Regions from separate parts of the Homo sapiens genome. Here region 2 is linked to region 1. The links come from fine-mapping of genetic effects on gene expression. A gene starts in region 1. The other region holds a variant in brackets. All regions are shown on one strand. Distances are between the middles of the regions. Region 1 holds the start of RNF2 (ring finger protein 2). Region 2 overlaps RNF2 (ring finger protein 2).

Evidence for each region. PIP is the estimated chance that this variant, and not a neighbour inherited with it, causes the effect.
Region 2: its variant is the best candidate, but not a certain one, in a credible set for the expression of RNF2 in monocytes after LPS (Quach 2016, PIP 0.68).

What each region holds. Positions count from the first base shown.
Region 1 is chr1:185,042,865-185,048,392 of GRCh38, reverse strand. RNF2 (ring finger protein 2) reads right to left here and starts at 2,835. Exons shown (of 7, transcript NM_007212.4): 1 at 2,744-2,835. RefSeq lists a silencer at 2,946-3,205.
Region 2 is chr1:185,095,108-185,100,107 of GRCh38, reverse strand. RNF2 (ring finger protein 2) reads right to left here. Exons shown (of 7, transcript NM_007212.4): 5 at 1,764-2,036; 6 at 146-317. Among named protein-coding and RNA genes, the nearest start is that of RNF2, 52 kb to the right of the region's middle. The variant T/C (reference allele first, on the strand shown) is at 2,406.

The sequences.
Region 1 (5,528 bases):
TGAGCATCCAACAAGATACATAACTAAGCCTAATCATACCACTCTGCCTCAGCTGTCTAAAAACCGTAAAGCAAAGGAGAATTAAGAACATGGCCAATTCTACCGGAGTTGCTCCACACAACATAAAACTGGATAATGGGTCACACCTACGCTCTTAGCACCTATAGTCAGGGACTCATCACCTAGCTCCTGCCTGGCAACACACTAACACTAGCTTCTACTTAAATGCCAAGAGTCCCATGACCACAGTCAAAATATTTATGTAAGACCAATCAAACTGCGCTTCCCCCAAGAAATACCAGAAGACCCAGTAGACACATTAGGTAGAAAGGGTAGAAGACCAGTAGGCAAACAGTCAGGATATCTGGACCCTTAAGGAATGGACTGTGTAAATGCTATTATACCTTTGTACCCCAAATTATATGGGCACCTACTCAGTATTAAATGCAAATAAACACTAAGTTACTATGACAGCTTAGATGTCAAATAAATGAATCAATCGAGAAATTAACCATTGTCTGATGACAATGTCTTCTACAGTGTGTGCAATAACACGAATTAAAAACCAATTGTAGATGTGTACGTGCGCAGAGTACATAATCTCTTATTTTTCTTTTAAAAGCTGCAAACTGTGATGGATTTTTAGTTTATCCAGAATTTAATGAGTCATTTCAAAATTATGAAGCGCTTTAAGTCATACTAGAAACACTGCCATAATTTTAATAAAGTGCGTTTTAATATTAACTCATTTCTCTTGCTGGAAGAAATTATGCTTCTTTGCTAATGTATAGAAATGAAACTGTCACTGAAACATCTGGTTATATATTATTCATTAGGCATATATATCACCTTTACTCCAAAGTCTGCATAATATAAACACAAATCATGAATAAATCAGATTAGAGACACAGACGTGACACCACAAACTGTAGGTCACTAATAAAATTCCAAACATGTTTGCTGACCTGGTCTATATTTCTATCCATTCAAACCTGGGAGCTTCACACAGGCAGAGAAAAACTCCAAATTCCCAGTATTTTGAAAGTCTGCATGGTCTACATTATGTTAGTGATTGTAACTGGAAATTTTTCTATGCAACACACTTTAGGACAACTAGCTTATTTTTCAAATACTCAAACGGATTGGCCTGACTCGGGCAATTTTTCTTCGTAAATCTGCCTCTACTATAATTAACCTCAAATGTGGATGCCACAAGGATACCTGAGGAAAATAACTACAATCCTTACAAAAAGTGAGGGACCATATTTGCTGTGCTACCCCTAGAAAAAGGAGTCACCTATAACTACCTATTATTTTGCTAAAAAGTAGTTTAAGAGTACAATCAAGATTTTTAAAGATACTTGTTGATTGTGAAAAGTAGAAATTTCAGGGGAAAAAGGGAATAACCAAGAGTCATATTGCTGCTATTTAAATACTTTATAAATCCAAGGATCAAATTTCACTATAAGAAGCAAACTCTCACACCCACCTCAGTTATTAGAATATTCAACAACTGCACTTAATACAAAACAGATAGATTAGCTACCAATTAGACTAAGTATTCCAGCTGATCATCTTGGAATTACCAAAAGTAGATTATGTAATGCAAATCGCTCGTACATTCGTTTTAAACATATCCTCGGTTTAGAACACTGAAACCATGCCTTAATTTTTTTAATTGAAAAACAGCGTATTACTAAAATACTGAGTGCATATGTATATCCTTTTCACGGCACTTCAAAGAAACCTGACATCTTCAAATCATTTTACAATGTAAAGTTACATTCTCTAAAACTTCCGACAGCCTCGAAAAAGATACCCAAAGGGGCTTCAAATAGATGAGTCTATAATTGATCTTAGCGGGCAAATAACTGGAATGAACCTCAAAGTTTGAGATCAATTTTTACTAACACCATCTCTGAAAGCAAGAAGGAGACTTCTGTAGAAGGTAAACGATTCTGACCAGCAGGACGTGGGCTCCCGGCAAAAGTGGGTACTAGCATCTCAGCGTAAACGACACGGTTCAAAACGCGAATCTTCCCGCAGAAACTAACCAAGACACCCCCTCCCCCCACGACTCCTCCTGGGTAAGCTCACGGTTTTAGAAAGCAGCAACAGATACTCCAGAGCAGGAGGCGGCACTCCAGGAATGTGTGAAGCTGAAGGGGTCTCCCCGAGGAACCCCGAGGTCGAGGAGCTCCTCTACACTGGAACCCCGACTCCGACCCCCCAGAAGGAAGGAGCGATATCTGCACAAAGTGCCCCCTACCCCACCCCCACGATGCAGACACACATCCCTAGCTGCGAGGCGAAAGCCCAGAGAAAAAACTCGCATTCCACTCCGTCCGCCTCCGGAGTAGGGCTGCAGAGAGGCTGGGGCCCCCGCCCCCGGAGGCGAGGGGACCGCGCCGCAGCGCCGGCCTCCGCGCAGAGGAAAGGGCAGCGAAAGGCTCGCGGCGAAGGAAGGAATCCCGGCGCTTCGCTGACTGGGTCCTCCGCAAACCAGCTCCCTTCCCTCCCACGACCCTCGAAGACACGGGAACAATGAGAACCCGCTTCACCCGCCGTCTCCGCCGCGAGAGCGGCCGGGGGCGGCGGCGGCGCCATGTCCCTTCACACCCCCGCGGACACACACCCCCCCCACACTCCGGGGCCCCCGTCAGTCGCCTGCAACGCTGCCGAGTAGACGCGTGTCCCGGCCCGCTGCTTCCGCGTCCTTCGCCTCCCCGCCCGCCCCACTCACCGGCTCCTGCCCCAGCCCAGGGCTCCGCTGGCCGCGGCCGGAGCAAGACTCTGGTATCAGCTGCCGCGGACGCCGGCGCCGCCGCACAATATGGCGAGCCTCAGCTTCCGCAATGGAGCTCGGGAAATACAACAGGGGCCGCTCAATATTCATGAGAGACTGAGGGGAAGCCGGCTCGGCCGGCGCTGCGGGGAGGGCGGGAAGGAGCGAGCGAGCGAGGGGCGGAGGCGCGGGACGAGGACGTGCACGGCGCGGGGAGGCCCGCGGCGCGAGGGAGGGTGCGCCGCCGCGTGTTGGCCTGGAGAACCCGCGCCACCGCCCCGCCCTGGGCTGGCCGGCCACGCCCCCCCGGCGCCCACCGCGGTCCGACGTAGCCCCCGGGCAACGCCCGGATGACGGCGCAGCCACCTCGTGCTCAACCTTCTGCTTGGGTTCTTCTGCCCTGGCTTCGGCCCACCCTTTACACCTTCCTGGCCGGCTTCTGGGGTTTGGGCTCAGACTTCTTTCTCATGAGTTCGTCCTCTTAAACCTGTCCCACCCGGCGGAAATCCTCATCAGGCTTTGGTTTGCAGAACTTCACATGAACTTCGGCACCCTTCCGCTCTCGTACAACAAACATACACTTTTCATCCTTGCAGGATAAAACTGCAAGTGTAATTGCTCCTGGGAAAATGACCTTCCACTCTAAACTTAGCTTAACATTCTGATTGTGGTCATCAGCTCTTACTATTTACCTTGCTGCTGCTTTATTCCTACCTCCTTGGCCCCTTCCAGTGTTACCTTCTGAACTTGAGGATTTACGAAGTAATAGATTAATAGATGTAATCATTACCTAAAACACAGCCAGTTAGTCTCCAGTAAATTATCCGACATTTAATGCATATAAATTATGAGCTGAAGAAGTAACGAAGAATTGAAAGTTCCCTGATCTCTATATGTACTATTGTTGAGATGTCATGTTCTCTTGAGAAGATAACCAGCAATACCAGACCGTAAATCTGAAGGCATAGAGGCATAAACCAATGGACTGCAGTGGGAATTGGGCAAACTAGGTTCATAGCCTCCAATGTGTGTCTATGTGACTTACGTAGATTGCGTAGCTCCTCTGCACTTCATTTTCTTCGTCTGCGAGATGAGAGAATTGTATTGAATCCTAGGTCCTTTCCAGTTCTTTAACGCTCTGAAACTCTCTATAAGCAATTCCAAATAAATGACATGAATTTACATAGGAATTTGGAAAAGAAAAATATCAATTCCAGCTGGTGTGTTTGGGGATGATTTCCTGAGGAGCCGGGATTTAAGATGGCCTTTGACGCCTTGGATGGGTGGAAAGAAAAAGGACAGGTGTTAAATACAGCACATTATATATGCTACCTAACAATCCATCAAAGAAAACAAGCATTATTCTTTTTCAGTGGCTTGAAAGCTTTTGCCTACTATCTATAACTTTAAATAACAAGTGACAGTTATCTGACTCTACAAGCCCTTCAAGGTTAAACTCTTCCTCCAATGTGGGGGGAGAAAAAAAGGCTGGGTGTGGTAGCTCACGCCTGTAATCTCAGCACTTTGGGAGCCCAAGGCCACCGGATCACTTGAGATCAGGAGTTCGAGATCAGCCTGGCCAATATGGTGAAACTGTCTTTACTAAAAATACAAAAAAAAGTTAGCCAGGTGTCGTGGCACGCGCCTGCAGTCCCAGCTACTCGGGAGGCTGAGGCAGGAGAATCGCTTGAACCTGGGAAGCAGAGGTTGCAGTGAGCCGAGATCGCGCCATGACACTCCAGCCTGGGTGTCTCGGCGAGACTGCGTCTCAAAACAAAACAAAACAACAACAACAACAAAATCAAAATAATCAGGGAAGCTCTGCTTCTCCCTTCTTGTGAAAGTCCACTTTCTAGAAACAGTGCAGTTGCAGAAGCATCTCCCTTCTTCCTTCATGACGAGTGCATGTGTAGTTCAATTAAAGGAAGACAGGTGTTCATAATTTAGAACTTTTGCTCTAATTAAAATGCCTTTGAAAATCATGATGTGTGGTTAGATTAAGCAATTCAATTGATGTTGAGAAAAGTGATGATTTGTAGAAAGCGCAGGAACTTTATGGATGAAAGTTAAATATAGTGCTTAAAAAAGACTCACAGGAGAATTAGTGGAAAAACGGAAAACTTATGGGATATCTGGATTAAATGTGATTAAAAAGCTAGACCTCAGGCTAACATCCTTAATATGAAAAACACTACTGACAAATTAATGGAACTCATTTTATCTATTTTATCTCTTACTCAGAAACTTGGCACTGGATCTTCTCTGACTATATTAATCAGGAAAGGTTATGTTATGGTATAGTAACAAACATCTCCAAAATCTACATGCCTTAACACAACAAAAGTTATTGTTTGGTTATGCTTCATGCTTCATGTGGATCCAACTCACTCTGTTCTGGTCACTCCAGGAACCAGATTGATAGAGACACCACCATCTTGTAGCTGTACCACCCTGGAACACAGAAACTTATTCTCTGCAGCAGAGGAAGAAAATGGCTAAAGAATCCCCGTGAATTTTTCGTAGCCTTAGCTTGGAAAAGAGAGCACTGATCACATTTCATTGCCCAGAACTGGTTGTACAGCCCCACACATCTGCAAAGGGACTGAGTCCTTGAACTGAGTTCAGAAAGAGAAGTGGGGACATTGGTGAACAATGCTAACGTCAGCCACCCTGACCTCACCACTAGGTTCCTAGATGCCATGGGAAAATTCTAAGAGGTTTTATTCTGTAACACTGGTTCTCT
Region 2 (5,000 bases), 52 kb before region 1:
TTTTCAAATCTTAGGAATAACTACTTGTCACTTAACACTGTTACGGTTTTTTACATTATTTATTAGATTCTACCCCACCACTTGCCACTCAGTTAGTTGGTCAGTGTGCTCCCAGTTTCAACAGTCTATTATTTTAAATACTCACAGTGAACTGGCCACTGGCTGTTGCTATATAAATGGTATACTGCTTCTCACTGGCTGTATCAAGGTTCATCTGGTTTGATTCACCTTTGCTTCGAAGTTCTTCTAAAGCTAACCTCACAGCCAGATACTTGGATAAGTGATCAACAGTGGCGTTACCAGAAGTCTTTATGTATCTAGAAGAATAAATCATTAAAAATTTCATTTCTAGAATATGCCAATGAGAAAAATGTACTTAAATTATGGAACTAATACATTTCTTAAAAACTAAGTAAAATGGCAATGTCTCAATTATTGACAAAATAATATCAGAAATTTACTGCTCTACAATCTAAATTTCTTATTGATAGGTACAGAAGAGGGGAAAGTAAATACTCAATATCTTACTGTCAGGTCACAAAAGCTTTACCTACCTTACCTTCTATAAAATGAGATACACAGTGACAAAAATCAAACAGAAATACACAAAGTACTAAGGGGAAAAAAAGGAACATACCCCCCAAACCCTAATGACCAGAATCTGCTGGCTATAGCAGCAACAGAAACAGAATAGAAGCAAATTTCTTATTGTCTAAGAATTAAAATGTCTTTTAAGACTAACCATAGAAATGTTCATTTGGGCCGGGTGTGGTGGCTCACGCCTGTAATCCCAACATTTTGGGAGGCTGAGGCAGGTGGATCACTTGAGGTCAGGAGTTCGAGACCAGCCTGGCCAACATGGTGAAACCCCATTTCTACTAAAAATACAAAAATTAGCCAGGTGTTGTGGTGAGTGTAATCCCAGCTACTTGGGAGGCTGAGGCAGGAGAATCGCTTGAACTCGGGAGGCAAAGGTTGCAGTCAGCCAAGATTGTGCCACTGTACTCCAGCCTGGGAGACAGAGCAAGACTCCCATCTCAAAAAAAAAAAAAAAAAGAGGCCGGGCACAGTGGCTTGGGCCTATAATCCCAGCACTTTGGGAGGCCAAGGCAGGCGGATCACGAGGTCAAGAGATCGAGACCATCCTGGCCAACATGGTGAAACCCTGTCCCTACTAAAAATACAAAAATTAGCTGGGCTTGGTGGCATGAGCCTGTAGTCCCAGCTACTCGGGAGGCTGAGGCAGGAGAATCGCTTGAACCCAGGAGGCGGAGGCTGCAGTGAGCCGAGATCGCGCCACTGCACTCCAGCCTGGCGACAGAGCAAGGCTCCATCTCAAAAAAAAAAAAAGTTAATTTGAGGATTTTTAAAACATAATATATCATTAAATCCCTCATTCAATAAATATTTGATGCTTATCTGTACTCAACAGCAAGCAGTGTGCTGGAGATACAGTGGTAACGTAGCCATTCTTGCCAGCATGAGTTTTAGAGCCTATTGGTACTCTAGTATCATTGCTGAGAAATTTGAATAGGCCCCTTTACCTTCTCTACCAAGGAGAGTCATTCCTTTCAGATGTGCAATTTTGGGTGGAAAGCACATGAGGGAGGAAGGAAGAAAACAACAATCTAGGCAGCTAGTAACTGAACCCCTGCAATCAATGGGATGACAAATATTGCTCCTACTTCTTATACAAGACTGCCTTTTACCTCCAAATTAAACATTCTGAATTTAGATAATCTGAAACTAATCCACACACTTACCTCGTCTGTGCACTGTCATCTTTTTCCATAAGTGTGGGATGAGGCCTGAATACTAATTCAATTTCACTAGCACCATCCATTACTGGATCAATTGCCATTGCTGCATTGTTATTATCAAGCTCTAGCCCAGAATCATCAGATGTTTTGGTCCGTTTGTTACTAGGGCCTGCTTCCTGATTGCTATGTGTGGATGCATTACTGCAGTGTGAACTGTCACCATTATCTTCTGCTCCACTACCATTTTCAATCTGTTGTTTCTTGCCTCGCTGCAGTCTAGTCAAGGGGGAAAAAAGGATGCATAAAATTTACTTTTAGGCCTTTAAAGCAACAAATCTGAAGCATGTTTGCTACTGAACTTTAGAATTCCAAAAAATACTGGTAACTGAATTTACTCTGAGTTGGATGATATTGTTTCCCACATGTTCCTGAAAGGTCTAAAAAATCTCTCTTGCTCACAGGCAAACATTTAAATAATTTAACGAATGTTTCTATTCACTTAATAATTTTACTGGCCAGGCACGGTGGTTCACACCTGTAAACCCAACACATTGAGAGGCCAAGATGGGAGGAGCTTGAGGCCAGGAATTTGAGACCAGCTTGGGCAACAAAGTGAGACCCTGTCTCTACCAACAACAAAAAATT[T/C]TAATTAGCTGGGCGTGGTGGTGCACCTATCATCTCAGCTACTCAGGAGGCTGAGACAGGAGGATGGCTTGAGCCCAGGAGTTGAAGGGCGCAGTAAACTAGGATGGCTCCACTGTACTCTGGCCTGGGCCAGAGTAAGACGCTATCTCTTAAAAATAATTTTCTTTATTAAACAAAAGACTATAAGAATTAATTGACAAATCTTTATATTCTGATCATTTTCTCTCATGGGGTTACAGGTCTGAAGAAAGGCATGATTCAAATATGAAAATGTAAAAGTTCTTAGGGAAGATATTTATGCCTCTTTAAAGAAATTCTTAAGGAAACAAAAGTTAAGAAGAATAGTAAGTACTTCCTCCCTGCTGACCTTCCGCCAAGTCAGCTAAGGCGATACAAAATGACTGAGGAAAATGCGATGGTATCTAAATAACCAACGTGGACACAGAAGCTGCTCTCTAACAAGCTCAGATACTAAAGCTAATTACCGGGCAAGGCACTTTATACATACAATCTTGTTTACTCTTCAAAATAACCTGTCAAGGCAGTTACCATTAATGTCATTTTCTAGTTGAGAAAAGCAAAGAAAACTCAGGTACAAGATTAAATAATTTGCCTCCAGTTATACAGCTAATAAGTGCCAGAACTAGAGCTAGGATGTGAACCAGACCACATTCTTCCTACCACACTGCCTGTCTCCCTACCTGTATAGATAAGAAAAAAGGAATATATAATGAAAAAGAAATATGAAAGAATGCCTTGCACTTGTAAGAATATTGTCATTATGTTTACTGCCAGAACAAAGAAATAACAGTCCAATGGTTAGGAAAGATGCTCAAGAACTCATGCTTTAAAAAAAAAAAAAAAAAAATCCTGCTTATAAAATTCATAGATCATTGCAAAACCAAGAGAGTATGACTAGTATGTTAAATAACAAACTATGATTCAAAAATACATAAGCACACACAATGGATTATTCAGTCCTAAAAAGGAAGGAAATCCTGCCACATACAACATGAATAGACATGCTGAGGTCATTTAAGTAATATAAACCAGGCACAAAAGTACAAATACGTAACTTGGTGGCCTACAGTCAAGTAAAAAGAGAAATAAATAACAGTAAATAACAACAACAAAAAAAAAACCCCAAAAGTACAAATACAGCACGATTTCACTTATGTGAGGTATCTAAAGAAGTCAAATTCATAAAACAAAGTAGAATGACAGTTACCGGGAACTGGGGGGAGGGAGAAATGAGGAGTTAGTGCTTAATGGATACAGGGTTTCAATTTTATAAGATGAAAAGAGTTCTGTAGATTGGCTGCACAACATTGTGAGTGTTCAGCTTTGAGGAGCCAATCGTTTAAAAGAAAAAAAAGAATGTACTTAACACTACTGAACTCTACACTTACAAATGGTTAAGATGGAAAATTCTGTTATATGTCTTTTACCACAATTTTTGAAAAAAAGGTATGAACGGGCTAAAATAATGGGACAAAAAATTGATAGCACAACATAAAGACTAAAATATATTCTAAAATCCACAACTAAAGCAAATGAAAAGTTATTTGACCATAAATTACAGTGACCTAACAGGTTTATTAAGACTCAATATATTTATTTTTATCCCACACCTTTCCAAAAAAGGATTGATGTGACAGAGCTATATTAATGTAACTGCAGGCAGCGTTTAAAGAATATGTTCATATAAAGAACATTAAGTCTATTATATCCTACATTTATCAAATCACGTCTATAATACTACATACTGTCCTGATGGTAGCATTTTAAGAATGACACCAATCTTGAGTGTCATATGAGGAACAAAAAAGAAATGAGGAATGTGAATATTAAGCCTTTAGAGGGACATATACGAACATATACCTACATAAAAATATTTGTAAACACAGAAGTAGAATCTGAAATGTATGTAGAAGTCAACATAAGTATTTCAACATAAGACAAACCCAGACTGCTGCACACAAGAGACTAATTTTAATTCAATATAAAGGAAGAACTTAAAAATTCACACATAGATAAATATTTACTGAGCAGCTACTACTTTAAGCCAAGCATGGTTCTAAATAATGGTGTTAATAAGAATCAATGATACTGACATAGTCTCTTCCCTCTTAGGGGTCATAATTCTAGTGTAGCAGGTAACACATGAGAGAGTGATACGTGCTATGGGAAAAAAATGAGGCAGGGAGGGTAAGGAATTACAGAGTCCTAGAATGGAAGATGAGAACTTAAGCAGATACCTGCTAAGAAAGTGAGGTAGTGTGCCATGTGGATTATTTGGAAGAAGGTTCCTGAAATAGAGTAGTGTAAGTACAAAGGCTCTGAGGCAGAAGCATGCTTGGTGAGTCTGAAGAACAGTAAGGAAGCTGTAATAAAGTTGCCAACAAAAGAAAGGAGTGCCTATCATACAGCCCCACCACTAGAAATGTACAAGCAAAACCAAAAGAATATTTACAAGGAGAGTCTTGCTTTTAGTAAAAGGCTAAACTGAACAACCATTAAAGTCCTTCCAACGCTTAGGAATGTAAAATTCTTCTAAAAATAAATACATTTAACATTTAGTACATTATACTTTGG